7 separate regions of the Homo sapiens genome follow, and all the other regions are linked to region 7. A link means that fine-mapping ties the variant in region 7 to the plasma level of a protein whose gene starts in the linked region. Region 7 holds a variant in brackets. A gene starts in each other region. All regions are shown on their reverse strands. Distances are from middle to middle.

The links. PIP is the posterior inclusion probability: the model's chance that the variant is causal. The UK Biobank Pharma Proteomics Project read protein levels with antibody pairs (Olink). The fine-mapping took linkage between variants from a reference panel, not from the people measured, so its PIPs are less certain.
Region 1: DRAXIN starts here. The variant in region 7 is fine-mapped to the plasma level of the DRAXIN protein (UK Biobank, PIP above 0.99).
Region 2: it holds the start of GZMA, and the variant in region 7 is fine-mapped to the plasma level of the GZMA protein (UK Biobank, PIP 0.92).
Region 3: KLRK1 starts here. The variant in region 7 is fine-mapped to the plasma level of the KLRK1 protein (UK Biobank, PIP above 0.99).
Region 4: KLRD1 starts here. The variant in region 7 is fine-mapped to the plasma level of the KLRD1 protein (UK Biobank, PIP above 0.99).
Region 5: it holds the start of KLRF1, and the variant in region 7 is fine-mapped to the plasma level of the KLRF1 protein (UK Biobank, PIP 0.99).
Region 6: it holds the start of CD86, and the variant in region 7 is fine-mapped to the plasma level of the CD86 protein (UK Biobank, PIP above 0.99).

Annotation. Positions count from the first base shown.
Region 1 is chr1:11,689,377-11,693,456 of GRCh38, reverse strand. DRAXIN (dorsal inhibitory axon guidance protein) reads right to left here and starts at 1,747. Exons shown (of 7, transcript NM_198545.4): 1 at 1,604-1,747. It also overlaps a transcript of MAD2L2 not described here. RefSeq lists enhancers at 2,432-2,939, 2,940-3,449.
Region 2 is chr5:55,101,502-55,105,571 of GRCh38, reverse strand. It overlaps GZMA (granzyme A), which reads right to left and starts at 2,926. Exons shown (of 5, transcript NM_006144.4): 1 at 2,820-2,926; 2 at 1-98. The coding sequence starts at 2,889.
Region 3 is chr12:10,388,039-10,392,118 of GRCh38, reverse strand. KLRK1 (killer cell lectin like receptor K1) reads left to right here and starts at 2,078. Exons shown (of 8, transcript NM_007360.4): 1 at 2,078-2,176; 2 at 3,244-3,348. The coding sequence starts at 3,309. It overlaps KLRC4-KLRK1 (KLRC4-KLRK1 readthrough), which reads left to right. Exons shown (of 13, transcript NM_001199805.1): 6 at 228-284; 7 at 3,244-3,348. The coding sequence starts at 3,309. The region is part of intron 3 of KLRK1-AS1 (KLRK1 antisense RNA 1); the gene reads right to left.
Region 4 is chr12:10,305,428-10,309,499 of GRCh38, reverse strand. KLRD1 (killer cell lectin like receptor D1) reads right to left here and starts at 1,630. Exons shown (of 6, transcript NM_002262.5): 1 at 1,416-1,630; 2 at 20-112. The coding sequence starts at 1,422.
Region 5 is chr12:9,825,080-9,829,159 of GRCh38, reverse strand. It overlaps KLRF1 (killer cell lectin like receptor F1), which reads right to left and starts at 1,679. Exons shown (of 6, transcript NM_016523.3): 1 at 1,531-1,679. The coding sequence starts at 1,615.
Region 6 is chr3:122,053,310-122,057,389 of GRCh38, reverse strand. It overlaps CD86 (CD86 molecule), which reads right to left and starts at 2,028. Exons shown (of 7, transcript NM_175862.5): 1 at 1,887-2,028. The coding sequence starts at 1,900. It also overlaps a transcript of ILDR1 not described here.
Region 7 is chr3:47,044,712-47,048,711 of GRCh38, reverse strand. It overlaps SETD2 (SET domain containing 2, histone lysine methyltransferase), which reads left to right. Exons shown (of 21, transcript NM_014159.7): 16 at 2,091-2,225. Among named protein-coding and RNA genes, the nearest start is that of NBEAL2, 67 kb to the right of the region's middle. The variant A/T (reference allele first, on the strand shown) is at 2,365.

The sequences.
Region 1 (4,080 bases), not on the chromosome of region 7:
GGTGTGTCACATGTTATGACCACCTAGACAGTGGTCAGGGGGCTTGGGCAAGCACACAGCAGGTCCAGGAGCCAGCAAGACAATCCCCTCAGAGGAAAGGAAGTGGCCTGTGAGCTGGTGCCGCTATTAAAGGCATCAAGCCAAGACTGAGGTTCAGAATTGGGGGTGAGTCACCGGACGCCTTCTGATGGGTGATCAGTTGTTGGCAACACCAGCTCAGCCACACTGATCTCATTTTGAAAAAAAGTGACCCATTGGCCCTGATTGTTTTAGCTGATTTTAGGACAAGCAAAGAGGAGGAGAGAGAGAAAGAGAAGAGTGCTTGCAAGGGTGTGGACGCCTGTATGGGCACGAGGAGGTGAAGGTGACAGGAAGTGTGATGGGGGAAGAGGCTGTGGTGGTGGGGTTACTCTGAAGTGTCTCTAAGCCTTGACTTTGAGATCCATTTCTGTGGAGCCCCCTGTCCCCACCCCATCCCAGGTCTGTAGACTCCCCTCCCCTCCCCTCCCTTCCTCCACAGGGTGTGTGAACCAGCACCAAGCGGCACCCCACAATTTCCACACACATCCCTATAGGTAGGGACTAGCACCATCCCTGTTTTGTGACAGGAACACTGAGGCTCAGAGAGGTGCATTCCTTTGTCCGAGATCACTCCCAGAGCCCCAGTGTACCCGACTCCAGATGCATAGTACTGAACCGGTTCCAGACACCAGTGTGTCACTGGGCTGGGAGGTGGGCAGCGTGGAGGGAGCATATAGGGCAGGGGAGACCACCGGGCGGAGAGGATGGCCCAGGGAGCACCCAGCTGAGGAAAGCAAGAAAGACTTGGCGGGAAACCCCAGCCCTCTCTCATCTCATACCCCGGCCCCGAAGGCGGCTGAGACCCTTGACGAGCGGACGGAGAAAAGCCAAAAGCCGGCGGTGGGGAGCAGGAGGGACAGAGCGGGAGACCACAGGCGAAAGACCAGCGCCGTCGGGGGAGCCAGGCTGAGTACCTTCCTGGGCACAGATGGGACGGCGCGGGGCCACCGGCGGTGCTGGTTCCGGGCGCACTCAGCGACCCCGGCCACACACCCCAGCCTCCTGGGCGGCCTCGAAAGGGGCTGGAGGGCACGCCCGCCAGCTCTGCCCGGGGCTCAGGGAGTCTTCGAAGACTTCTTCCAACGGTGGCGGACTGGGGCCCCCTGCCTGAGAGACCACCCGGAGACTCAGAGACAGAGAGACAAAGGGAGACTGGGTCAGGGAGAGAGAAGGCTAGTGCCGAGGAGAGTAGGTGCGAGCCGGGACCCCAGAGGGCGGCGAGGGCGCGCGCGAGGCCGAGTGTCAGAGCGTGGAAAAGTGGGCGTCCAGCGGTAGGTGGACGGATGGGGAGCCCGGGAGCAGAGCCAGGGTCCGTGGGCAGACGCGGCGAGGAGAGGAGGCGGCGGAAGGACTGGCGGATAGACGGGTCCGAGGGCTGGGAAGGAGGCAGCATCCTCACTTCCAGCCTCGGGACCCCGCGCACCCCGCCCCTGGGCGCGCCAGGTAGCCCACCTTTGTCCGGGCTCGCAGCCAGGTGGGGCGGGAGGGGCGGAGCCAGGGGCGGGCCGAGGCCGTGCCTTACCTGTCCGGCCGGCGGGTAGGGGGAGGAGGGGCTCGGGGCCGAGCGCCCGCGGGAGCCGAGCGCAGCCGAGGGCGAGCCGCGGAACGGGGCCGGCGTGGAGAGGTGCGCGGGCAGCCGGAGGATGTGCCCGGGCTGAGCGGGACTGGAAGGAAGGGGGAGTGGGCGGGCAGGAGGGAAGGGGGCGGGAGCGCGGGGAGGGGACAGAGGAGGGGCGGCGGGTGGCGGGCTCGACTGCCCCCAGCCGAGGGGCAGCCCCGGGGCCGGGCCCGGCGCGCACCCGGCCAGCGCGCCCTCGCCAGCTGCGCTCTGAGTTCTGGGCCAGCTCCCCAGAGGCCTAGGCGCCGCCGCCGCGAGGGCGCGGGGCAGACAAAGGAGGCAGACAAAGGCGGGCGCAGCCCAGCAGCCGTGCGGGCACCGGGCGAGGCAGGCCCACTCCTCCCGGTGCGTAAGAGCCGCCTCGGCGCGGCCCAGGGCGCGTGGGACGGGAGGGGCTCCGGCAGTTGTGGCGCCTCTGGAGCGGCCCCGCGCAGGGCGGGCGACAAAGGGCCGCGGCGGGCGGTCCTCGGTGGACCCCAACAATGGAGCGAGGCTGCGCGCTCAGCTGCGGCCGCGTCTGTCAGGGCAGGGGCCCGGGGCCACAAAAGGATTATTCCGCCTAGACTGTCAAAAGGGACGGAAGAAATGCCCAGGGCGGGGGAGGCGGGACGGGGAACGGCGGGGCCTTTGTAGCCGCAGAAAGTGCGCAGAGTGGGCAGGCGGGGTTCTCCGAGAGGTCGCTCCTGGATGTAGGGGTACAAAGGGTCTTCAAAGTGCTACCAGCTCACCTGGGGCGCTGACGGCGCACCTGTGCCCTCTTTCCCGGTAGGGAAGGGAGAAAGACAACCGCCCCAATACACACACACACAAACACACACACACACACACTCACACGCGGCGCGGCTCTCGCCACGCCCCGTCCAAAGCCGGCCTGAAGCTTCTCAGACCGGCCCAACCCGGACAAAGCCAGCGCTGGGGCCGGCTCATCCATCACCGCGCGGGGCGCCGTGTCCTGACGACCCTGGGAGTCTGAGAATGCTGGGTTATGGGTCCCGTGCCTCCCATAACTCACGACGGGGTCGGTGGGGCCACGGACGCTGCAAAGATCAAAGAGCGATGGGGCCGGACTCCCATATGTGGGAAGCAGCGCTCCCACCTGGCGCCCTGAGCTCGCCAGGTGGCTTCCATTTCGACTGTTTTCTTTCTCCAGCGTGTGGCAAATTATGACTTTGAGGTTTTAGAACACAGTTCTGCCGTCAGGCTAAATGTCTGTGTTCCTCTTCTGATGCCGTCCCCTATGACCTCGAGCAAGTCGCCTGACCTCTGAGCTCATGATTATACCTAAATTTCAGTGTTCTAGGCGTGAATGCAGTGCCCTGTGTAAGGAGATAACGTTTCTAAGGTCTGGCCCATAGGAAATGCTCCTGTAAAATTAGCTGCCATTGTTACCGTGATATTATTAGCTTGGTGGGCACCAGGATGGATTGATGAGAACACTGAACTGTTTATTCACTGAAAGGTTTGAGTCATCCATCCCATAAATACCTATTGAACACCTACTATGTGCCGGCACCGGAGGTACAGTAGTAAACAACATGGACAAGAATCCCTGCCCCCATGGAGCTCAGATTCTAGTGAAGGAGACAGAAGATAAGTGAACAAATAAATATAAATGATGTCAGGTGGTGATTAGTGCTATGAAGAAAAGTAAAGCACATTACAGACAAAGCATGAAGGGACGAGGTGTTGTTTTACATAAAGTTATTAGGAAAGGCCTCTTTGCTGGGGCAGTTCTTTTGGCAAAGAAAAGGAGGTAATGAGCCACGTGGTTGTGGGGAGAAGACTTGCAAGCAGAAGAGCCACTGCAAAGGTCCTGGAGCGGGAGTGTGCTTGGTGTGTTTGGTGGAGAAGAGTCAGTCTGGAACAGAGTGAGGTGACATCAGACAGGGAGCTGGGATAGGACCATGTTGTTACAGGAAAGGGGTCCTGACCCAGACCTCAGGAGAGGGTTCTTGGATCTCGCACAAGAAATAATTCAGGGCGAGTCCATAGAGTAAAAAGTTTATTAAGACAGTAGAGGAATAAAAAGAATGACTACTCCATAGACAGCACAGCACCAAGGGTTGCTGGTTGCCCATTTTTATGGTTATTTCCTGATGATGTGCTAAACAAAGGGTGGATTATTCATGCTTCTCCCCTCCCCCCGCCTTTTGTTTTTCTTTTTGAGAGGGAGTCTTGCTCTCACCCAGGCTGGAGTGCAGTGGCACAATCTCAGCTCACTGCAACCTCCACCTCCCGGGTTCAAGCAATTCTCCTGCCTCAGCCTCCCGAGTAGCTGGGATTACAGGTGCACACCACCATGCCCGCTAACTTTGTGTTTTCAGTAGAGATGGGGTTTCACCATGTTGGCCAGGCCGGTCTTGAACTCCTGACCTCAGGTG
Region 2 (4,070 bases), not on the chromosome of region 7:
CCCAGCACAGATGGTTTTTCTGTCAAGACTAAGTAGGACCATGTAGGGTCTTGAATGAGGAGTTACTTCATTTCCTCCAATAATTTTTTCACAGACATCTGTTCAATGGAAAAAGACAAATCAGATTGGTGCTCACCCCCAAAGAGCTCTACACAAAGTCATGTTTCTAAGACCAGCCATGCTTTTTGCACTCAGAGAGGAAGTCTGGATGAGAGCATTTCCCCTGCTTTTACTCTATGTAGACCCGCAGACATCTGATGCAAATCCTATTCCTGTTGGACTCTAGGGTCCTGTTTTTCCACCCACAGAAGCGAGGCCATTGACTGTTCCAGGATCATTAGGCTGGATGTCACAAACCAGCAACCTCAGGCCCCAGGGCAGAAAGCTCTGCCTTGGTCTTTACCATCAACAGTTGCTGCAGGAAATGCCAGTGGTAGTGACAACCTCAAGTGCTCCCACCCTTTTTGGCTAACTATTAATTTGGGGGAAATAGATAAGACTTTTAGAAGCCTCATAACTTCCCTTTTAACCCCAAGCCATTGCAAAAATATAGCTTATGAACCGATATTAGCATCGTTTAGCTGTGACCCTACCCCTCAGTCCTTTGGTCATTATGAGACTTTTGGTTATTAAACTGCACTGTTCTCACTCATAAGTTAAGAAAATAACATCGATTGCACCTCCCCTTCAATCTCTAGACCAAACCATGGGGTTTAATCTAAGGTCTTTTCCAATGAGATAGGGAAGAGAAGAGAGAAGATACCATATGCCAAGAATTCTGCCTAAGTGACATTTCCTTGATGATAGTCTTGAAGTAGAGACCCATTGTTAAGGAACAGTGAGAACTAAACACAAGGCAAACCATACATGCAGATAGAGAGAACCTTATGTCTTAGTGATACACTCCGAGTGCTCCACCTCCTGCACCAGATGTTCTTGGATTCTCCCAAAATAGTTTTGCTGAGACTCATGGTTTCTTGAATAGGGCACAGTGCCTCTTGTTCCATAATTAGGACTAAGTCATTGCCAAATTCACAGGCAAGTATTAATGACAGCTATAGAAGCCTTTCGTAAGATTTGATGAGGGTAAGAGCAAGGAGGAGAGTGACCACATGAAATGTGGCTAGTGTGATTTGAAAAAGCAGAGGTCTCTGCTTTTAAAAAGGAAACTGGGAGGAAGAAATTCTAGGCTCTAGAAACAAAAGGGTAAAGAGCTTATAGAAACAAAAGACCTTCACCCAATCCCAATTTTCCTAGGGTGATTCATGTACAGATAGATTTCAACTGTGCCTTGCTTTGCTGTCTGTTCCTTATATGGGCCCACACTGCCCTCTCTGAACACAGGAAACAAAGAGGAGCACAGCAGGTTGCTTTTGTTGTTTTCCTTTGAAGAAAAGATATGGCTGGATTTATCTGCCCTGTGTTTTTCTGTTATGGAGGATTTAACATGCCTGAATATAGTCATACTATGCCCTGCTTATAACATAGCCAACCTTTGTCCCAAATGTCCTGCAGCCTTGTTATTTTTATATTTCTTCTCTCTCTCTCTCTTTTTTGTTTTTTTTTTGAGACAGAGTCTCGCTCTGTCACCAGGCTGGAGTGCAGTGGCACGATCTTAGCTCACTGCAGCCTCCAACTCTCTGGTTCAAGCGATTCTCCTGCCTCAGCCTCCTGCGTAGCTGGGATTACAGGCACGTGCCACCATACCCAGCTAATTTTTGTTTTTTTAGTGGAGACAAGGTTTCACCATGTTGGCCAAGATGGTCTCCATCTCTTGACCTTGTGAAACACCCACCTCAGCCTCCCAAAGTCTTCTCATATTTAGGTGCATAAACCAGATATGCACCTAAATATGATAAACCAGAGTTCTTTGGGAATTCCTGGCAAGGCAGGTTATTACATAAGTCCCTGCCTCCAAAAGCTGATGAATCCTGGGAAAAACCGTGGCTGGCTCCATATTGCCACAGCTTGAGAGTAGTCCTCACTTCCTAGCAGGTTCTTCAAGGGAAATCTAGAGCTCCCCAAGAGCTGTCACCCTTTCAGTGGTAATACCATGAATTATACAGCATTTTAACCCATGCATGCTCAACTCACACAAAAGCAGAAATATTGGTTACCATTTGGTAGACAAAAAATTAGCTTAATAAAAAATACTATAGCACACCCAAAGGGTTAATGAGGGAACTGGCCTCACGCCTTAATTTATTGCCAAAGAGTCTCTAGACCAGAGAAATAAGTATAAAAATTCTAATAATTCCTGATTCACTTTTGGTGTCTAGGTCAGATTTGTCTTAATTGTCTTTATCTATGCATTTTCTGCAGCAGGAAAGGCTGAGCTGACTAAGTTGCCACTATTCCTTTCCTGGAAGGTACTATTTGTTTTACGAACAAGAGAGTTTTGTTAACTCATTTTTACATTGTCCTTTTTGGCAATTTTCAAGTTACAAATTGGCAGCAATAAGCATTGGTGGTTCTGCTATCTTTTGCAAAATAATTATGAGAAGAAAAGATTTTTTTTTCTAAAATACAGACATATTTAAAATCCAAGAAAGAATGCTATTTAAAAAAAAAAAATAGAGACAGGGTCTCACTATGTCGCCCAGCCTGGACTCAAACTCCTGCGCTCAAGTGATCCTTCCACCTCAGCGTTCCTAGTAGCTGGGACTACAGGCATGTGCCATTGTGCCTGGCTAAACATTATAAGGCTTGGGGGAAAACATCTTCTTTCAGTATAGGAAGGTAATATTGCCAAAAGTTCATTGAAAGTCTGCTCCATTTTGCTTCATGGTCATAATGGAAATGAGAAGAATCAGTCTTACCTTCAGGAATTAGCAGGAGAGAAACGACAACTGAGAGAGAGGATGCCAGAAATCTATAGGAGTTCCTCATTGTGGCTGCTGTCCCACATCAATCAACCTGAAAATCTGTTTTCAGTTCTTAACTGCCTCTATCTATATACTGAGAGTAAAAAGGATGTGGTTTCCTTTCATTTTTTTTTTCAAGTTTCAAAGTTTAGCATTAGGAAACCAAATCCAAATAAGTGAGAATGGTGGATGATGGCTCACTGCCAGCAGGCAGGCTTTCCTTTGCTAGGACTGCTGAGGGGGGCGCTGGAATTCTACAGGGTAGGAGAGGGGCAAGGGACCTTGTTGCCATCAGAGTACACCAGGGAAGACTGTAAAGTGTCTCAGCTATGATTTTGAAGACGCTTTCATCATCTGCAATATTATCTGTAGTATCCATGACTGGAAACTCTCGAAGACTTAAATTAGAATTTTAATAAAAGTCCTCAAAATTGGTCACCAATCAAAATTCTTTCTAGCTGTCTCCTTGGGTTATATAAGAATTAGCAGGCCAAGTGCAAGCTGAGGACAGGAGGGAGATTTATTTACATAGAGGCTCCTGCCTGGATTTTCCTTCCCCACTTTGTGGTGAGTGTTTATTGTGCTCCTGCCTGGTCTGTGGCAGGTGTGGGAACATGGGCTGGAGGAGGGTAGGGGCTCTTGGCCCTTTTCAGCCCTCTGATTGTGCGTTCCTGATTGTCTAGTTTCACAACTTTAGATACTGAAAGTATCTCCGAGTTTCCCTCCCTCCCCGCCCCCCCCCGACCCCTGCTTCCTGCCTTTCTTCCTTACTTTCTTCTGAACAGGTTTAGGTGAGAAAAGAAGTGGGAGTCATTTTTGTTCCAATGTTGGGGAATGTCTCACTCTAAGAAGAGTCAACCTCAGTCCCTGGAGGAACAGTATGCAGTGTGCTTTCTATTTGAAATGAGTTCAGCTCTTTTTCTGAGCTGAGGATGTGGTCTCCGATACAATATACATGGTCAGATGTGCTGTCAGGATGTTGGGTACTGAACCAACCATCCCCATAGTTAACATCCTGATGACTTCAAACCTAGTGGTTACTTCTTTAGAAATCAAGTGACCTTAGAAGGGAGCCCTGCTGAGACCCCTGCATTTCTTTTTCTCAGATATTACAAGTGTATCAAAGGTTAATCATTTTCAGTAACAGCAGTGAGGACCCTGCTATTGGTTTTGGTGAGTAATTTTAGTGCAGACTTAAAAAAGTCA
Region 3 (4,080 bases), not on the chromosome of region 7:
AAAGTGAGTGTATGTTCAACATTGAGAAAGAAATTGGAGTTTTAACATACTATTTCTTTATCTAACTAATTGTTTTAACCCGACATACAGGACCCATTTTAGAATTTTCTTCTTTAAGAATCCTTTCCACACTCTGTCAGTTGGTTTAGGGACCTTTATATATGACAATAAAACTCTCCCTGGTGCTTAGCTTTATCATGGTATTTATTTCAGAAATCTTCTTTTAGGTATGTGTGGGGACTTCCCAGTTGGCTGTAAGTTGCCATTTGAACTAAACGAAATAGGTAGGATATTCAAATGTTCTTTTTTATCCTATTCCTATCCCCCTTTTCTCAATTCTGTATTTAAGAGACAATCTCTATTCAATCGAAAACTACATATATAAAAATAACTCTTCAGGAAATTGTGATTCAGGTTTTTCCCATAAAAAGCCTGCATTTACTCATTTATTCATTTCCTTTCAAAAACCAAATATTTGTTAAAATGTAGTTGTTAGAAAATATCAGCCTATATTTCCTCTATATAGATCTATTTTTACTATATAAAATAGCTAATAGAAAATGTTGATTAGCTGAAAAGAATCTTGGTATGTCAGAAAATAACATATTTTCTTCAACTTGTTTTATATTCACCTATCTTGTTTAATTTTGAATTTGTTTTATACTTATTCATTTTATATCACCTAAACTAAAAAGTAATTTCCAGCTGGGTGTGGTGGCTCACGTCTGTAATCTCAGCACATTGGGAGGCTGAGGCAGGAGGATCACCTGAGGTCAGGAGTTCGAGACCAGCCTGACTAACATGGTGAAACCTCGTCTCTACTAGAAATACAAAAATTAGCCAGGTGTGGTGGCACATGCCTGTAATCCCAGTTATTCTGGAGGCTGAGACAGGAGAATTGCTTGAACCCAGGTGGCGGAGGTTGCAGTGAGCCGAGATCGCCCCGTTGCACTCCAGCCTGGACAACAAGAGTGAAACTCCATCTCTTAAAAAAAAAAAAAAAAAAAGTAATTAATTTCCATGTGGGCAAAAACTTTCTTTTGGATTGTTTACTTTGACATTCTCAAGATCTAGAAAAGTGCATAGCAAATAGCATTCGCTAAAGAAAAAAAATGTTGAATAAATTTATTGTCCAACTTTAACACATCACCACATGAAAGCTGTTTTCCTTCCTTATATTTCAGAGTTTTAAGATTAATAGCTTTGGTTTTTGTTAAAATGTTATAATGTGTTCATCTTATATTACTTTATATGATGTCTTATGTTAGTATTTTAAATTAATAAACATAAAATATATATTTAGCTTATCTTGTTCATTGGTATCAATTCATATATTATTCTTATGTATACTGGGGTATATATTTAAGTTTCTAATTCTCCTGCATATGATGTAGATATGACAGAGATGCAATTTCATGTTTTTTATATTAAAATTTAAAAATTCCCAGGACTAATTTTTTGTAACTTAAAGGCCAGTGTGATAGTAACCCAGGACAAATTATTGAATAGGAGCTAATTTCCCACTTTATCTGCAATGTTACCTTATATTTTTTAATCTATGCACATGACTTTTTCTTGTCTGTATTTTTACCCTTCTCAATTTGTCTATCTATGCCCCACATGCCACTTTGCCTTTATTAATACGGTTTTAACATAGGTCTTACTATCTAGTAAAACAAGGCTCCCACATTTTCTTCATCTTCAATTGTGACTTTCCTAGTCTTGACTTTTGTAATTTAATGTACATGTAGAATTCTGCTTTGTAAGTTCTACAACAAAACCTGAGGTATTAACTGGAATTGAATTGAATCTCTAAAATATTTAGGATTAAATGGCATCATTTAAATTCATCATTTTCAAATCCTAAAATGTTATTTAAAATAATGGCAAAACTACAATTACTTTTGCACCAACCTAACATTTATCCAACAATGGGTGGTCTTAACTCTTTTACCAAATTAACAATATTTTTGTAGTGATAAGGCGGAAGTACTGTGGTTTATGTTTTTCCACAGGAAGATGAGATTATAATATTTGTCACATCTTTCTCAAAGATAGAAATTCACTAAGTATCTCCACTTTCAATTCTAGATCAGGAACTGAGGACATATCTAAATTTTCTAGTTTTATAGAAGGCTTTTATCCACAAGAATCAAGATCTTCCCTCTCTGAGCAGGTGTGTGTATGTGTGTATGTGTGTGTGTTTATTATTCAAGATATGAGAAATTATATTTCAACCTCAAAAAAATAAAAATATTTACACTATAAGGTAATTCTAATTGTTTCTTAGATGCTTGAATAGAACTCCTGAGGATACGGAATGCTTATCATTTCTGATGTATATTCTATCACTGTATCTGATGATAGGTAATTAGGATATACTTATTGAAGAATCAGAAGTTGTAATATTACTATAAGAAGAAGCCTTGTCTCTAAGCAAAACTAGAAAAATGAATCTTTACATTTAGGATGAGAAGAATTGAGATTCAATTTAAATTGTCAAATTTTTGAGTTTTCTGATGCTGTAGGGGGCACTTACCTTTGATACACATCTTTACATGCAAGGTGAAACAAGTTATATCTGTGCTTTCCAACTATCATAATCAAATATGAAATAGCTTTTATTTTTGAAATCTAAGCACTATGCTTATTTATTAAATGGTTTTTTCTGGAAGCTCTGCTGTGCATTGCTAAGATGTTACTATATAAACATGTGAGATTAGTTTTGTTAATGATGATGGTGATGATAATTTGTTGATGATGATGATATGGGCACGTTGGATTAAAATGCACTAGAAAAGGACATTCAACAAAAGTGCATATAACTTACCTGAGTTTAGCTTGCAGAAAGAAAACTAAATTATTGCCAGATAAAATAAACAACTGGAAACACTTGATCTTAGCTAAAAGGCCAAGAAGCAATAAACGACTATAAACAGAAAACTGGGTGTGTTGTTATCTAATATCAGTAAAGTAAAATATTGGTATTAAATATCTCAATGTAGGTGAATTAATAGGTTCATTATATTGTTATGACATTTTGAAGTAATTGGCGATTATTTTACAACCAAGAGAAATGTATAAAATTAATTTTGCCTGGCTTTATGTGAATTGTCATTTCTATTCTTTTCTTAAAGGCATGCACAGGGGAAAAGTTTCTGCATTTTACTTTTCTATTCAAAATATTTTATCTCACCACGGGAAAGAGAACAAAAAACAAATGCCCAGTTTTATTTTATTCAGGAATCCTTTGTGCATTGAAGACTTTAGATTCCTCTCTGCGGTAGACGTGCACTTATAAGTATTTGATGGGGTGGATTCGTGGTCGGAGGTCTCGACACAGCTGGGGTATGTTTTTACCACATAAGTGTGTAGTTTTGTTTTTATACAATTTTAAGATACCAAGAATTTCATACAAGCATATAAGGCATAGGCAAGCAATTTACTCTGATTCTTTTCATGTTCTATTTATGTTGATTTCATGTTATGTTCATATTGTATTTTAAATCAAGTCTTCCAAAACTTAAAAACTTTTTTCCCTTTATTTTATTAACTATATTATGGTAAAGTCGCTCACAACTTGGGACAGCTTGAAATAGTGAAATAGATGTGGAGTCAGACTTGAATTTTACTCAAACTTTTACCGCTCTCTAGATTTGAAGGGTCAATTTGCAACCTCTGTGTAGTTTAGTTTAGTTTCTTTTTCTATCAAATACAGGCATGAAACATTCCATATTTATCTTAGATTTGTGTAATATTCAAATCAACTGACATGTATGTTAAAGCACTTTTTATCCTAAAGGTGTTTATAAATTTATAACTTATTCACAGTTGGTAACATTATATTAAATAAGCTTTATGATTTTGGCCATCTCTAGCATTCAATTTCTTCATCCATAAAGTGATACCTACTCTCTTTACTCCATATGTAAAATAACTGAGTTAGGTATTACATGCGCAATCAATGTCTAATTTTACCTATAAAATATAATTCATATTATCATTTAATTTATAAAAGGCTTTTGTACAACAAACCCCCGTGACATGAATTTACATATGTAACAAACCTTCGCATGCACC
Region 4 (4,072 bases), not on the chromosome of region 7:
CTTGCTTAGAAAAACTTACAATTTTTCAACAAAATTCCCAACGTAGACATCAACGAAAGGCATATTATCCCTAAGGTCCCAGAAATTAACCTCCACAGAGTGGTCTTAAACACTGTAGAGAAAGACAGACAGAGTAATGACTTAAAGAGCAAACTCAGGAGCTGAGTTCTTAAAAGCAGAAACTAGTGACGGAGAATCCACAACATTCTTTCATTTGATAACGGAGTCATCTTGCCAATAAAACACTGAAGACTTTCCAATCGGGACTTCACCCAATACCAACATTTTTATGTGATGTATCTTATTCTTCAGGAAGATTATTCAAACATTTTCTTCTCTACCAGCTCTGTTGCAGTAAAGTGAATTTACCATTTATTTTAAATTGGCAGAGGTGCTTAAAGATCTGGAGGTAGAAGATATTAACAAGCACCACGTTGTGTTTTATGGACTTACATAACAGGCATTTATTTTTATTCTCTCAACAAAATCACAAGATAGATAGTATGGTTCTCATTACATAGATGAGAAAACATAAGGTCCAATAATAATGTTATTTTCTCAAGGTATCAAAGCAAGTAAGTATCCAAGTCAGAAATCACATGAAAGTGTGTCTAGCTCAAGAATCTTTCATTCAACGTAGTCTACCATTGTCACAATAATACTAGTTGAGAGTATGCCCTCTCCTCATCTCAGTGCAGGTTTTGCTCTGATAAATGTCTAGCTGCTCATTGGTTCGTAGAGATATTATAGGGAAAAGAAGACATAGGAACATTCTGGACTTGGTGTGATAACTGATAACAAATTGATGGGTAACAACTTTGAGGCCTGGCTTCATTTCACAGTATATTGAACATACATAAACAATCCTTTTTCCCCTAGAACATTCCATTTGTTCATACTCAAAATTACTTGCTTTTAGGCCTTTCACCTAAAACATTTCAACATTAGGAGATTCTGTGCTAACGTGAACACACTCTCAAAGAGTGATGTCATTAACAACAGTACAATGTGTCAAACTGTTCATTTGTGTAATTTTTGGATGTCACAACATAAATAGTCAATTAAAACCTTTTCAGCATTGTGTCATTAATATTTGGCATTTTCTATTGCTATACTAGAACACTGTTGCTCACAATTTAACCAGGCTAAAGTTCAGTTCTCACTCAGAATTTAAAGGTAGCCCTGTCAGAAACCACTCTTCAAACCTGTGGAAAAAACTTCATGAAATCATGTCTAAGTTATACAATGAAGAATCAGGAAAATATAATGAATGTGGAAAGTGCTAATGCATGAAAATCCTAAAAACATCCACTGTTAATCATGTCCTTTTCTCTTAAAGCATTACCCCAAAATCAGCCAATCCAAGAAATAGCTTTTCTGGTTATTTTTAATTTAGTGACTGAAATCACACATACCTGCCATGAGAAATTATGTTCCAAGAGCGAAGTAGAGAAGGCACGATGTGTACTTTTTCAGAAAGAACAGCGTTGAATTGTTGAAGCTGAGCTGGAGATTAAAGAATCTGAAAGTTGAGTATGAAGAAATTTAGCAAAAATAGAGAATGAAAAATTGTGTATTTAAATGATGTTCTTGAATCATCTATTGGTGAGACATGTATTATAGTGTGAATAAGAAGCAGTAGAATCACAAGCCTCTGAAGTGTTCCAGGAACCACAATACAGGAAATTCTCACAGTACTTTTGCAATATTAACACTTTGGCAAGGACTAAAGAAGGTGAGAGGAGGTCAGAGGGAGTTTTGTTGCTGTTTTGTTTTTTATTGTTTGAAAATCAAATTCATTTTAAAGGGTTATCTGGAAAATGAAGGAAATGATGGGCAAACCAAAGGTAAATTTACTTAGCATAACAAAATTACTTACAGAATTTTCCTCTTTTAATAATAAACATTTATTATTTACCTTGTACTTAACACAATTTAAAGCACTTGGCATATCTTAGCTCATTTATTTCTGTAAATGGCTTGATAGTAAAGATATATAAATATCTTCAATCTATCAAAGAGAAAACTGAGGCATACAGAGCTAAGTAATTTGCCCAAGGTCACATAAATTGGGATTTCCATGTCTCACTCTGTTCTTCTGATCTCTACCTAATTATCCTGGCCACGACAGGCAAAGTTCAAAAAAGTAGAACTGGATGGGTTTCCCACTTGGACGCCTCATTCACGTTAGCCTTAAAAGCTTTTTTCAACACCTCAATTTTCATTTTCTTAAAGTTCTTTAAGCACGACTTCAGCTTCTTTATTTTCCTTATTTTTACTAATACATTATTATATTGTTTAGTGTGTTATCTAATTCAGATACTATACTGATACTTCGATATACACTTTTTCATCTACAGAAGAGTAACCTTGTTAATAGGAATATCAAATGTGGAACAGGTCAAATTTCCAATGTGGAAGAGATTGGCTATAATAAGAATCTTGAAAGGAGAGATTTCGATCCATGATTTAGTATCTGGAAATACAATCTACCATGCACCCCCATACAAAAGCAGACACTCAAATAAACGTTTTGTGTATTATATTTTGTATATTGTTTATGTTCAAGCATTATAATATTACTATAGATAAACCCTTTTGTAAAAGATGGGCTTTCAACCAACAACAGAAAAAAATGAAAGAAAAGACTACTTTGACTTCTCAGTTTTTATGAAGTCAAAACTTTCCATCTTTTCAGTTTGCATTGTGTGCCTAGAGCTGCTTTCATTGCACCAACAAATTTGTTGAGCTATAAATCCTCACTGAAGAATATAAGCGTAAAATCTACTTCATCCAGACTGTATGCAAATCTTAGTTGAAGTGATTTATTTAAAAATCCTTTGCTTACTTGAAATCTATTCATTTTTAGTGTTAGAAAAAGCTGGTCTGGAAGAAACCTGTCTGATACTATTTTTCCCCCATGTAAAATTGCCTCAAAATATAGGAGATTAGGGGTTTGCTTTTAGTTTTTCTCTTGAGAGAGTACAAATTTATGACAGAATGTGCAATAGGGATTATTACTACACTTTCATTACTAACACAACCACCTTTATTTGGAAGTTAGAGGTTCTAAGTTTTTAGAACCCTGTTTGGTGAGAATACGTCCATCAGTCATTGTCCTTTTTTTCATCTTAGTTCACTGACTTAGAAATAAAAATCCAACAAATACAAGTTTACTTCAAGAACTCCAGGCTTAAATATTTAAGATACCTAAACACACACACACACACACACATACACACACACAGTAAACATATATGTATATACCTCTTTAACTCTTTCTGAGCTGCCAACTCTGATTGTTCTTTTTTTGTTTGTTTTTGTTTGTTTGTTTTTTGAGATGGAGTCTCTGTCACCCAGGCTGGAGTGCAGTGGCTCACTCGGCTCACTGCAAGCTCCGCCTCCCGTGTTCACGCCATTCTCCTGCCTCGGCCTACCGAGTAGCTGGGGCTACAGGCTCCCGCCACCACGCCCAGCTAATTTTTTGTATTTTTTTTTTTTAGTAGAGACGGGGTTTCACCGTGTTAGCCAGGATTGTCTCGATCTCCTGACCTCGTGATCCGCCCGCCTCGGCCTCCCAAAGTGCTGGGATTACAGGCGTGAGCCACCGTGCCCGGCCTCTGTTCTTTCTATTTATTTTTGTACGTAGACAGGTGAATGATTTCCATGTACTGTATCTCTCCCACTCATCTCCACTTGTTCCTGAAGTTATCATTGCCTCGCCTATGTCCCTTGGAATATTTGGGGAACTATGGCCAACTAGTTATCTGTATAGCTGTATCTATGGGTTCTTTTTTTCTCCAATAACTGCTGAAAGCCTTGCTGTTCTCAGACATGCTAATCCGGAAGTGCTGAATAATCATCACCAGAATGGGCGTCAACAAACGAATCTTGTGATTTGCTATACAGTCCAGCAGTCTCAGCCCTAAAGTCAGGTAATTCTGAACATTGTGTTTTGCCCAGTTCCCAGAATTACTCAATAGTGTTATGTTCCAGTCACCTCCTCTAGAAGCTAGATTAAGAAAATAACCTTTATTGCGTTCCACTTTCCCTTTCCTATTACATTTCCTTT
Region 5 (4,080 bases), not on the chromosome of region 7:
ATTATGTAATTTCTTACTATCACTGGCAACAAAGGTTTTTCAATATATGAGAAAAGATTTACAAATATGTCATCACAAAATTAAGTTAAATGAATGAACATCATAACCCCAAGGCTCACATTGTCAATCTAATTCACATAAAATACGTCTTACCTCAAGCTTTAATAAATATTAGCTAAAGGTACAAGACATAAATATTAGTATGTGTCACTTAAATATCTGGGAGCCGAAAATCTGCACATTTTTGCTTCAGAGAGACATTTATGAACAGAGTGTGGAAAAAAGTCTGCAGAGAAGTCACTACATGTTGTAGTCTTTCAGGTTTAATATCTCTAATTTCCAAAAATGAAATAAAAATTGAGTGTAGGAAGTAAAGACTTGAAAATATGGGAATCTAAAAATTCACATGGAAGAGGCAATAAATTTCTTATACATAGCACGTATGTAACTCTAAGATGAATCACTGATGGATGATACTTGTGGAAGGACTCAAGAGATAAGTAAAATTTTCATGGGTGAAGTTATTAAAAGAGAAATATTTAGAAAGCAACAGAACAGAACAGACAGTCTCTATAACTGTGATTATTTGTGTCTTTAATTTCTGCTTATCTCTTTTGCCAAATCACATTAAGGTGGCATGATGGAATTGCATTGTGTATGGAGGGTATGCTTGAAGTAGCAAATTAAAATGTTGATTGCTGGTGTATAAACTTTATTTTGAGTCAACTTGGTGAAAAGCATAAAGTTTTTGAGAAGTTGAATTAAAAATTAGTATTAAAGGCTGGGCGCGGTGGCTCATGCCTATAATCCCAACACTTTGGAAGACTCAGGTGGGTGGATCACCTGAGGTCAGGAGTTCAAGACCAGCCTGGCCAACATGGTAAAACCCCATCTCTACTAAAAACGCAAAAAATTAGCCAGGCATGGTGGCGGGCACCTATAATCTCAGCTACTCAGGAGGCTGAGGCAGGAGAATTGCTTGAACCTGGGAGGCAGAGGTTGCAGTGAGCCGAGATCATGCCATTGCACTCCAGCCTGGGCAACAACAGTGAAACTCCGTCTCAAAAAAAAAAAATAGCATTAAAACACCATATTCTATGAATGATAAGGAGGTGAATGGCAGCAAATATTCACTAATTTGAAATTATTAATTTTAATTGAGTATGCATATTTCCTCAGAGAATGTCCTTAAGAAATTATATCAGACAAAATATTACAAGTAAGTGTTAGTTCCACATTGATAAATGGGAGAGAGAGAGATTATCTCATAGTAAATTTGTAAGATTAAATGAAGGAACATAGATAAAACATTCTGTATAGTGCCGGAAACTGGTGTTTCTTAAATGGTAAGAGAGGTTGTTATTTTTAAATCATTATTAATATTGAAAGAGAGGACAGGTGAGAGAGATACAGAGACGGAGAAAGAAAAGCACCCAAATACTGAAACAGTCCAATAACACAATGGAACAGGATACGGGAAACTACCATGTTAATTCACACCAATTGAAAAAATGAAATTAAATTCCATACCTTTAAATGTAAGTTGAGATGTTTGGGCAGAACTCCTTTTCTTTGACTGTACATTCAATGTCATGTATCTTTCTTCATCTTGCATCTTCAATGTGAGTGAATGTGTGTGTATACAGGTATGTTTTGTTTTATTAAGTATAACATGAAATGAGGAAAGAATAATAAATCTGCTGCTAATCAGAGATGCTCCTCAAATTGTCCTTTCACAGTACATATGAGGGTTCACAGTTTCACTTATTTGTGAAAACCTCAGAGGAAATGTTTTCTTTTTAAAAGTTGCTTTCCCATGACATAGATAACACATAATTTCTCAACTGTCCACCACATATTGAATTGAATATTCTTTTGAGTGCTTTACAAATTTCTCTTAATTTACCCTTAAAGTCAAGGGAATGGAAATTATGCCCCTTTTTGAGGTGAGGTTAATAATATATAGCTGCCTTTTGTTATAGCCTAAATATTTATATCATTTGAATTAGCCTCCCTAACATATTGATATTTAATTTAATAATTTGCAATTGCCAAGCAATTAAATTCTTTATCCTAAAACAATATTGTTTATAAATCATGCTAATAATTTAACAGTATAATTTGATTTTTTTTAACTTTTAGGTTCAGGGCTACATGTGTAGGTTTGTTATATAGGTAAAATCATGTCACAGGGGTTTGTTGTACATATTATTTCATCACCCAGGTATTCAGACTAGTACTACATAGTTATGTTTTTCTGATCCTGCCCCTCCTCTCACCCTCCACCTTCAAGTAGGCTCCGGTGTCTGTCATTCTCCTCTATGTGTACATGTGTTCTCATCATTTAGATCCCAATTATTAGTGAGAACATGTGGTATTTGGTTTTCTGTTCCTCCATTAGTTTGTTAAGGGTAACGGCCTCTAGCTTCATCTATGTTCCTGCAATGGACATCATCTCATTCTTTTTTATAGCTGCATAGTATTCCTTTGTATATGTGTATCACATTTTCTTTATCCAGTCTACCATTGATGGGCATTTAGGTTGATTGCATGTCTTTGCTATTGTCAACAGTGCTGCCATGAACAGATGCATGCATGTGTCTTTATGATAGATTTATATTCCTTTGGGTATATACCAGTAATGGGATTGCTGGGTCAAATTTCTGGTTTTAGGTCTTTAAGGAATCACCATGCTATCTTTCATAATGGTTGAACTAATTTACACTCCCATCAAAGGTGTATAAGTGAACCCTTTTCTCCACTACCTCATCAGCATCTGTTATTTTTTGACTTTTTAATAATAGCCATTCGACTGGTATGAGATGGTATCTTACTGTGGTTTTAATTTGCATTTCCCTAATGATTAGTGCCTACTGGAGGATAGAGGGTGGGAAGAGGGAAAGGATCAGGAAAAATAACTAATGGGTACTAGGGTTAATACCTGGGTGAAGAAATAATCTTTACAGCAAACCCCCATTACACAAGTTTACCTATGTAACAAATTTGCACATGTACTCCCAAATTTAAAATAAAATTTTAAAAACACAATATACCCTTTTAAATAAGATAAACTATTAATTCAAGGAGAAAATATTTGACAAATTATCAGAAATATATTTGTTGCTTAATGACAAAAGTAAAAGGATAATACATTTTTGTGTTATTTTTGTTTATTTTTACTTGCTAAATTTTGTTCTTTAATTTATAATTACAATTTCTTTGGCCATTATTTGACACTCCAAATGGATAAGAAGTAAATTAAGATTGATAAATAAAACACGAAAAGTATCTGTTCATGTCCTTAGTCCACTTTTTAATGGGGTTGTTTATTTTTTGCTTGTTGATTGGTTTAAGTTTCTTACAGATGCTGGATATTAGACCTTTGTCAAATGCATAGTCTGCAAAAATTTTCTCCCATTCTGTAGATTATCTGTTCACTCTGTTGATAGTTTCTCTTGCTGTGCAGAAGCTCTTACAGTTAATTATTTTGTTTGTTTGTTTTGTTTTGTTTCACTTTTGTTGCAATTGCTTTTGGCATCTTTGTCATGAAATATTTGCCCATTCCTGTGTCCAGGATGGTAATTCCTAGGTTATCTTCCAGGGTTTTTTATATTTTGGGGTTTTAGACATAAGTATTTTATCCATCTTGAGTTGAGCTTTGTATATGGTATAAGGAAGGGGTCCACTTTCAATCTTCAGCATGTGGCTAGCCAGTTATCTCAGCACCATTTATTAAAAAGGGAATCCTTTTCCCATGGCTTGTTTTTGTCAGCTTTGCTGAAGATCAGATGGGTGTAGTTGTGCAGCACTATTTCTGGGCTTTCTGTCCAGTGGTCTATGTGTCTGCATTAGACCATTGTGTTCCAATGGTCTATGTGTCTGCTTTTTTTTTTTTTTTTACCAGTACCTTGTTATTTTGGATATTGTAGTACTGTAGTATAATTTGAAGTTGGGCAATGTGATGCCTCCAGTGTTGTTCTTTTTGCTTAGGATTGCCTTGGCTATTTGGGCTAATTTTTCTGTTCCAGATGAATTTTAAAATAGTTTTCTTCTAGTTCTGTGAAGAATGTCATTGGTAGT
Region 6 (4,080 bases), 75 Mb before region 7:
GGATGTTCCATAATCATCCAATCACTTGTTTTTAAACACGTAAATTGTTTCTAAGATTTTCCTTATTAGAAACAATAGCAAGAAAAATATCCATCACTAAAACTTTACAAACATGTATTATTATATCTTAGAATAAATTCCTAAAAGGTGAATTGCTTGGTTAAAGGGCATATACATTTTAAAGGCTTTTGATATGTATCACTAGATTATTGTCCAGAAAGATGATATCACCACTAGTGCGCAACTAGGGTACAAATAATCCTCCCTTCTTAGCAAGATAGAGGGTTCTTGATTGCTTGCTTTTTAAAACTTAATATTTATCTCTTTGATAGAGAAAAAATGATACTTCACTGTTGTTTTAATTTGTATTTATTTCATCTCTTATGAGAACAGACATTGTTTAATGGCTATTACTGGTTCATGACCAATCTTCAGGCACTGTGAAACAAAAGGAATCTTAACAAGTTCAATATAGACAGCAGCCTATGGTTTTTTAGACCTCTGCAGACAGTGCTAGCATAATTAAGTAGTATCCCCTCTATGGTACCACAAAAATTATAAATTTTGAAATTCTTTTTTTCTTCATACAAGTATAACGCTTCAAAATTCCACTGGAGCAAAAGGAATCTTTACTGGAAAATTAAATTTTAATCTTCTGAAATAAAAGCAACAAAGCTTTTTCTCAAACCAGTAAGCACTGGGTAGATGAAAGTTACTTCGATTTTCAAAGAACAGTAATTATAAATACATAGTGACGGCCGGGTGCGCGGTGGCTCACGCCTGTAATCCCAGCACTTTGGGAGGCCGAGGTGGCCAGATCACAAGGTCAAGAGATCGAGACCATCCTGGCCAACATGGTGGACCCCGTCTCTACCAAAAATACAAAAATTAGCCGGGCGTGGTGGTGGGCGCCTGTAGTCCCAGCTACTCAGGAGACTGAGGAAGGAGAATCGTTTGAATCCGAGAGGCGGAGGTTGCAGTGAGCTGAGATTGCGCCACTGCACTCCAGCTTGGCGACAGAGCGAGACTCTGTTTCAAAAATAAATAATTAAAAATAAATAAATACATAGTGACTGGCGCCAGCTGCCACCACCCAAGAGAAGGGCGGGTGTGACTCCTTCCAGGAAGTCTCCACAGCATGGAGAAACCTTCTGGCGCACCACGAAGCGGGCAGGAAAGATTTTAGCTCTACCCCTTATGAATAGTGTGAACTTGGGCAAGTTTTTTAAGCCACAGTTACCCCATCTGTCAAAAAGAATGATGATGTCTTTCCAAAAGTCATTGTGAAGAATAAAATTCAATGAAATAGCACTAGTAAAGTACCCAGCACATCATGCATGTTCAATACATGGTAACTAATTTAATCACTCTACCTCCTTCCACTACCCAACCCTGCCCAGAATCTCCCATGGCCTGATTATGACATATTAACTGAGTTTTGCATTTTCTCCTTATACCTCTTTTTTCTCTTTCTTTTTCTTGATCTCTCTCCCTCTACCTTCTCTATCTCATTCCTCCACCCTCAGACCAAACTGACCCTGGTAGACAAAAAACATATTCCCTGTTATTTGTCATTCTTATGCAGATATTTTAAAAATTCCTGATTCTTCACTAAAATCAATGACTGTAACATTCAGTATTTGAATAACAGATTTACAAAACCAAAATTAGGCACCTAAAAATATATATAACTACCACCAATGAACTGCTTTGGGCATTGCAAATAATTCTTGCCTTTATGTGCCAAAGATCTTTTGTAGAAAAAGAAAGCTTCTCCACTTAGGAACTAAGTGAAGGACACACATCAAAGCACCATCTTCAACCTCAGCCTTTCACTGCAGTCACAACTCATAACTTCTCTGCAAAGAATAAGAATTATTACTCACCACTGGGGATCCATTTTGGCTGCTTCTGCTGTGACCTAATATCTGGAAATGACCCCACTCATCCGTGTGTCTGTGCTAGTCCCTGTTACAGCAGCAGAGAAGCAAAGCTTTCACCCTGTGCAAGCCTTCCTCGGCAATGACTGTATACCTACCCAGCTAACTTTCTTTAAGAGAAGCTGTTCCTCTTTTCTCTACAGATTTTGACCACACTTGAGGAAGAAATTTAACCCTTTCCTTGCAGTTTAAACTCATTGACGTAGGTCTATATGTATTAAAGAATATATAATTCAGTAGCTTGAGTTCCAGACATGACGTTAAGATGAGCCTGAATAAAAAATCTCCCCTCTTGAAATTCCCTCAAAAAACCTAGAAAATAAAATAATTAGAAAGAGAAAACAAACCTCCGCAGCAACAAAATAGAATAAAGAGGCATTCTACAGATTTTGATAAGATAATAAAAAGTGATTTATTGTGGATGTGGATTGGGAGTGAGTAGCCACCTAACCCTGCCAATTTCCACAACCAAAGTGTGGAGAGTTTCACTGAGCTGGGGTGGGGGGATGGGAGATGGGGAGATGTTCTGTAAGGACTGCATAACCAAGGAGGGCAGACAGAAGCTACTGCTTTTATTATTTCATTCCTACTATAGCCAAGGATTACATTGATGAAAGCGAATATTCTGAAACAGAAGTCTGAAAAAAAGGCAGCATTATAAAATTAATAGATGTCCCTAAGAGACAAACATAGAATTAATCAAGCAGAAACTATACTAGAAGATATTTCCTCGTATGAATTAAAATGGGCATCATCTAGAAACTCAAACTGTTTAGTGTATCAAAGCAAAAGTTATGAAAATCGATTCTCATCCAGACAAATCATTTTGAACATTTTAAATTCCAAAGGCAAAGCTAAAAACAAAATGAAAACAGAATGACTACAGAGAAACAAAAAACAACTTGGCATCTTACTCAACCCTAAATGGCAAAAAACAACAGAACAATATCTGCAGAATTTTGAATTAGCATTATCTACCTAGATAAGATGCCAGTTAAGTGTCAAGTCAATAGAAATATGTCACCAAGCAGGCAAGAAAACAACAACTGCAACAGAAATACCACCACCAAGACAGCCTTCCTAAATAAATTATTTAAGGATATATTCCAGAATAATAAATGAATTAAAATAGCCTTAAAATGGAGAAGCCATGGCTGAAAACACCAGTGCTGAGCTTTAAAGCAAGTTAAACATGGAGAAATAAGGCTAAATAATTATAAATTAGTTTAGACCAAAATGCTAAATAAGAAAAACTTATTAGAAGTAGATTACATATATTATTTCAAGGAAGTTTAAAAATAGCAGATGACATCACTGCTAACTAGAGCAAGGAAGCAAAATCAACACAATTATTAATCTTCAAATAAGAAGATAGAACAATGATTATTTTATCAACTTTGATAATTTCATCTGGATTTGAGAATTTTAAAAAATGAAGACAGCAATAATATAAGTTATCTATCTTCAAAATTATTGCAGAGCAGGAGTGCAAATAAAATAGTATTTATAACTACATAACACATCAGAAATAAGATGAGATAAAAAAATCCATGTAAACCTCATTTGTTATAAATATTAAATATTAAAGGTATGGGATGTCATTTTTCAGTTTCTTGGTAGCAGTGTACACACTCAAATTTCCATTTCTTGGTATCAATGCATACACTCAAATTTTTATTTAAGATAGCATAAGCATTTTCTCCTGTTATCATAAACTTTTTAGTAGTCATTAAATAGTACATTAATAGTACATCAAGTATACACTGTGAAAGCTGGCTGTAATGGCACATACCTGTAATCCTGGCTACTCAGGAGGCTGAGGTGGGAAGATTGCTTGAACCCAGGAGTTTGAGAACATCTTGGGCAACATAATGAGACCTTGTCTCATACACACAAAAAAGGTATATATTGTAGTAAAATTATCTTCCTAATATCAGACAGTTTTAGCTTTTAGTATTTTTATATTACAATTTTCTAATTAATATATTTAGTATATACATTTAGGAGTTTTTAGTATTTATTAGTTATCCATTGCTGTATAACAAATTATCTCAAAATTTATTTCCTTAAAACAATAAATGTTTAGGGATTGATATCCAGAATATATGATTAAAAAAACTCCTACAACTTTGCAGAAGAA
Region 7 (4,000 bases):
TGGCGAGGAGGAGGGAGGAGGGTTGTTTATACAGCTGTAGAATGTGTTTGTATTTTAAGATAAGTGTTATAAAAGAGTTAAAAAGTTGAAAAAATTTGTTTATAAAGTAAAAAAGTTATAGTAAGTTACAGTTAATTTATTAAAAAAATGTTAATAAACTTAGTGTAGCCCAAGTGTTTATAGTCTACAGTAGTGTACAGTAATGTCCTAGGCCTTCATATTCACTCACTCACCACTCACTTACTCAAAGCAACTTCCAGTCCTGCAAGCTTTGTTTATAGTTAGTTCCCTATACAGGTGTACCATTTAAATTTTGTTTTTTTGAGACGGCATCTCGCTCTGTTGCCCAGGCTGGAGTGCAGTGGTGCCATCTCGGTTCACTGCAACCTCTACCTCCTGGGTTCAAGCGATTCTTCTGCCTCAGCCTCCTGAGTGGCTGGGACTACAGGTGCATGCCACCATGCCTGGCTAATTTTTTGTATTTTTAGTAGAGATGGGATTTCACCGTGTTAGCCAGGATGGTCTCGATCTCCTGACCTCGTGATCCGCCCACTTTGGCCTCCCAAAGTGCTCGGGTTGCAGGTGTGAGCCACCGTGCCCCGGCCTAAAAAATTTTTATACTGTATTTTTACTGTAACTTTTCCATGTTTAGATACACAGATACTGTTAAGTTATAGTTGCTTACAAGTCTTTATTACAGAAACATGCTGTACAGGTTTGTAGCCTAGGAACAACAGACTATACCATATAGCCTAGGTATCTAATAGATTTGTGAAGTACACTGTATGATGTGTAAGTACCTCATACACTTAGTAGGTTTGTGAAAGTACATTATATGATGTTACCACAACAATGAAATCTCCTAACAATGCATTTCTCAGAATGTACCCCCCTTGTTAAGCAATACATGACTGTACATTTTCCTCTCAGGCTTTGTGATACTATTCTGATGGTAATTCTGCCTTAACAATTAATGTTTTTCAGTCTGGTTTATTATCCAAGTAGATTAAGCTGATCCAGAATACCAAATTAAGTGTTCTTTTCCTTTTTCCTGTGTCCTGTCAGTAATTATTCATTCAGAAACCTGCTAGATAGCTGCATTGCCTATTCAGACTACTTGAGTTTTTACTGGTGTCATTTGGAATTATATTTTGTATTTTGAGTACTTAGCATTTGATGTTTCTGTAATCATTTTACCTGCTAGAATCTCAGTCCATAGGAGCAAAATCTCTCCTTAAGCACAGGATACATGTCTATTCAATTCCTTAACAGTCACCACCTCTTAGGACAGCAAGGCTATTTTTCAGTCTTCTTATCACCTCTTCTTATTTAAGCAGATTTTCTATGCTTGAGAAATAATTACAGAGTAGGTTTAAGCCCTAGCATAGTACTTATTTCTTATGAAACTCCAGGCATGGGCAGTACCTGGTTTTGATGGTGGTCAGCACTAAATGAGATGATGTATGTTAAGGGGCTTCTTGCATCATAGAACACTGTATAAATTGGTGTGTTGTGAGAATTTCAGATGCATTGATTCTGCTTTCTGCCAAGGGGTTTTATCATAGAAGACTACAAAAAGCTAAAACAAAAGGTAGCTTAAAATTTGATCATCTTATTTACTATGATTCACACCCTTTGACCTTTTCTGATCCAAACAACCTGTTTGTTATTACAAGTTGGTAGCAAAAGCCTTCCTGAAAAGAGCAGCGTGGCATTGTTTCTTGGATATCCCAGGAGCAGCACTTCATTGGTTTTTGCTTATAGAAACTGTCCACCTGTTTAATTTTCAATGTCATTCCAATGTCATTGAAAGCTAAACAGTTGGAGAATTTCTATGACCAAAAAAAAAAAAGCTTTTATTTTCTTATGATAAAGTAAAATCAAAGTAAGTAAATGAATAGGGAATTAGTAAAAAAAGAAACTTTGGGGTTTGAAACAAAAAATTGTTTTGCACATTTATGTCCAAATATATAAACAAAAAATTTTAAAATGTTATGGGTATATCTTTAAGATTGTGCCAACTTGGAAGTCAGTCTGTTTATTAAAGTGACAAAAGCTTAAATTATTGATTTCTTCATTTTATCTTTTAGAGTTATGCCCAGCCAAGTCTTCAGTATATCCAGGGGCAACAGATTTTCACAGCTCATCCACAAGGAGTGGTGGTACAGCCAGCCGCAGCAGTGACTACAATAGTTGCACCAGGGCAGCCTCAGCCCTTGCAGCCAGTAAGAAATGTTTCAGTTGTTAAAACTCATTGGCTGTCTACTTTGTCTTTGGAAGGTTTTCTTTTTGGTTTGGATTTGTTTTGGGTTTTATTTTTGGGTTTTTTTTTCACGTGTTCTTTGTTTTATTTTATTTTATTTT[A/T]TTTTTTTTTTGAGACAGAGTCTCGCTCTGTCACCCAGGCTGGAGTGCAGCGGCACAATCTTGGCTCACTGCAACCTCCACCTCCTGGTTTAAAGCGATTCTCCTGCCTCAGCCACCTGAGTAGCTGGGATTACAGGTGTGTGCCACCACGCCTGGCTAATTTTGTATTTTTAGTAGAGACGGAGTTTCCCCATGTTGACCAGGCTCGTCTTGACCTCATGACCTCAGGTGATCCACCCGCCTCAGCCTCCCAAAGTGCTGGGATTATTTATAGGCATGAGCCACCACGCCCGGCCCGTTTTTAAATTTGTGTAGCCACCAAATTCACCTGAGCCACCCTGAGGGCGTGAACTCAACCATTTTGTAAAAAAAAAATTTTTTTAATTCTGTGGAATTTATAGTTCCGTTAATACATATTTTGCTCCGCACCTGTAGTCCCAGCTACTCAGGAGGCTGAGACAGGAGAATGGCGTGAACCTGGGAGGCGGAGCTTGCAGTGAGCTAAGATCGCGCCACTGCACTCCAGCCCAGGTGACAGAGCAAGACTCCATCTCAAAAAAAAAAAAAATGCTCCTAGGATCCTTTTTATTTGTTGTTTACCCTGACCTTGTATTTTTATATTTTACTATGAATTTTTGAAGTAATAATTTTTTTTTTTTTTTAACTCTGTCACCTAGGCTGGAGTGCAGTGACACGATCTTGGCTCACTGCAACCTCCACTTCCTGGGTTCGAGTGATTCTCCTGTCTCAGCCTCCTGAGTAGCTGGGACTACAGGTGTGCATCACTGCACCCAGCTAATTTTTGTATTTTTTTTTTTTTTTTTTTTTAAGAGATGGAGTCTTGCTCTGTCGCCCAGGCTGGAGTGCAGTGGCATGATCTCGGCTCACTGCAAGCTCCGCCTCCTGGGTTCTCACCATTCTCCGGCCTCAGCCTCCTGAGTAGCTGGGACTACAGGCGCCCGCCACCACGCCTGGCTAATTTTTGTATTTTTAGTAGAGACGGGGTTTCGCTGTGTTAGCCACGATGGTCTCAATCTCCTGACCTCGTGATCTACCCGCCTTGGCCTCCCAAAGTTCTGGGATTACAGGGATGAGCCACTGTGCCCAACCTTAATTTTTGTATTTTTAGATACGGGGTTTCACCATGTTGGCCAGGCTGGTCTTGAACTCCTGACCTCATGATCCGCCCGCTTCAGCCTCCCAAAGTGTTGGGATTACAGGCGTGAGCCACCACACCTGGCCGAAGTAACAATTTCCTAGACCAGCTATCTATCAGTATTTACCGCGTACAGGTTGAGTATCCCTTATCTGAGCTTCACGGGACCAGAAGTATTTCACATTTCAGAATTTTATGGATTCTGGAATATCTGCACTATAATTACCACTTGAGCATCTCTAATTTGAAAATGTATAGCTTGAAATATTCCAATAAGCATTTCCTTTGAACATGGCCTTTGAGTGTCATGTCAGCACTCAAAATGTTTTGTATTTTTGTATTAGGGCTGCTTAACCTGTACTAGAATATGATACTGTACTAGTCACCATGGACTAGGCATGTAGAATTGTGTGATATACTTCACTATACATGTTGTACAATGTTTAAAAAAAGTTTTTTATATGATGTTTAATATTAAGA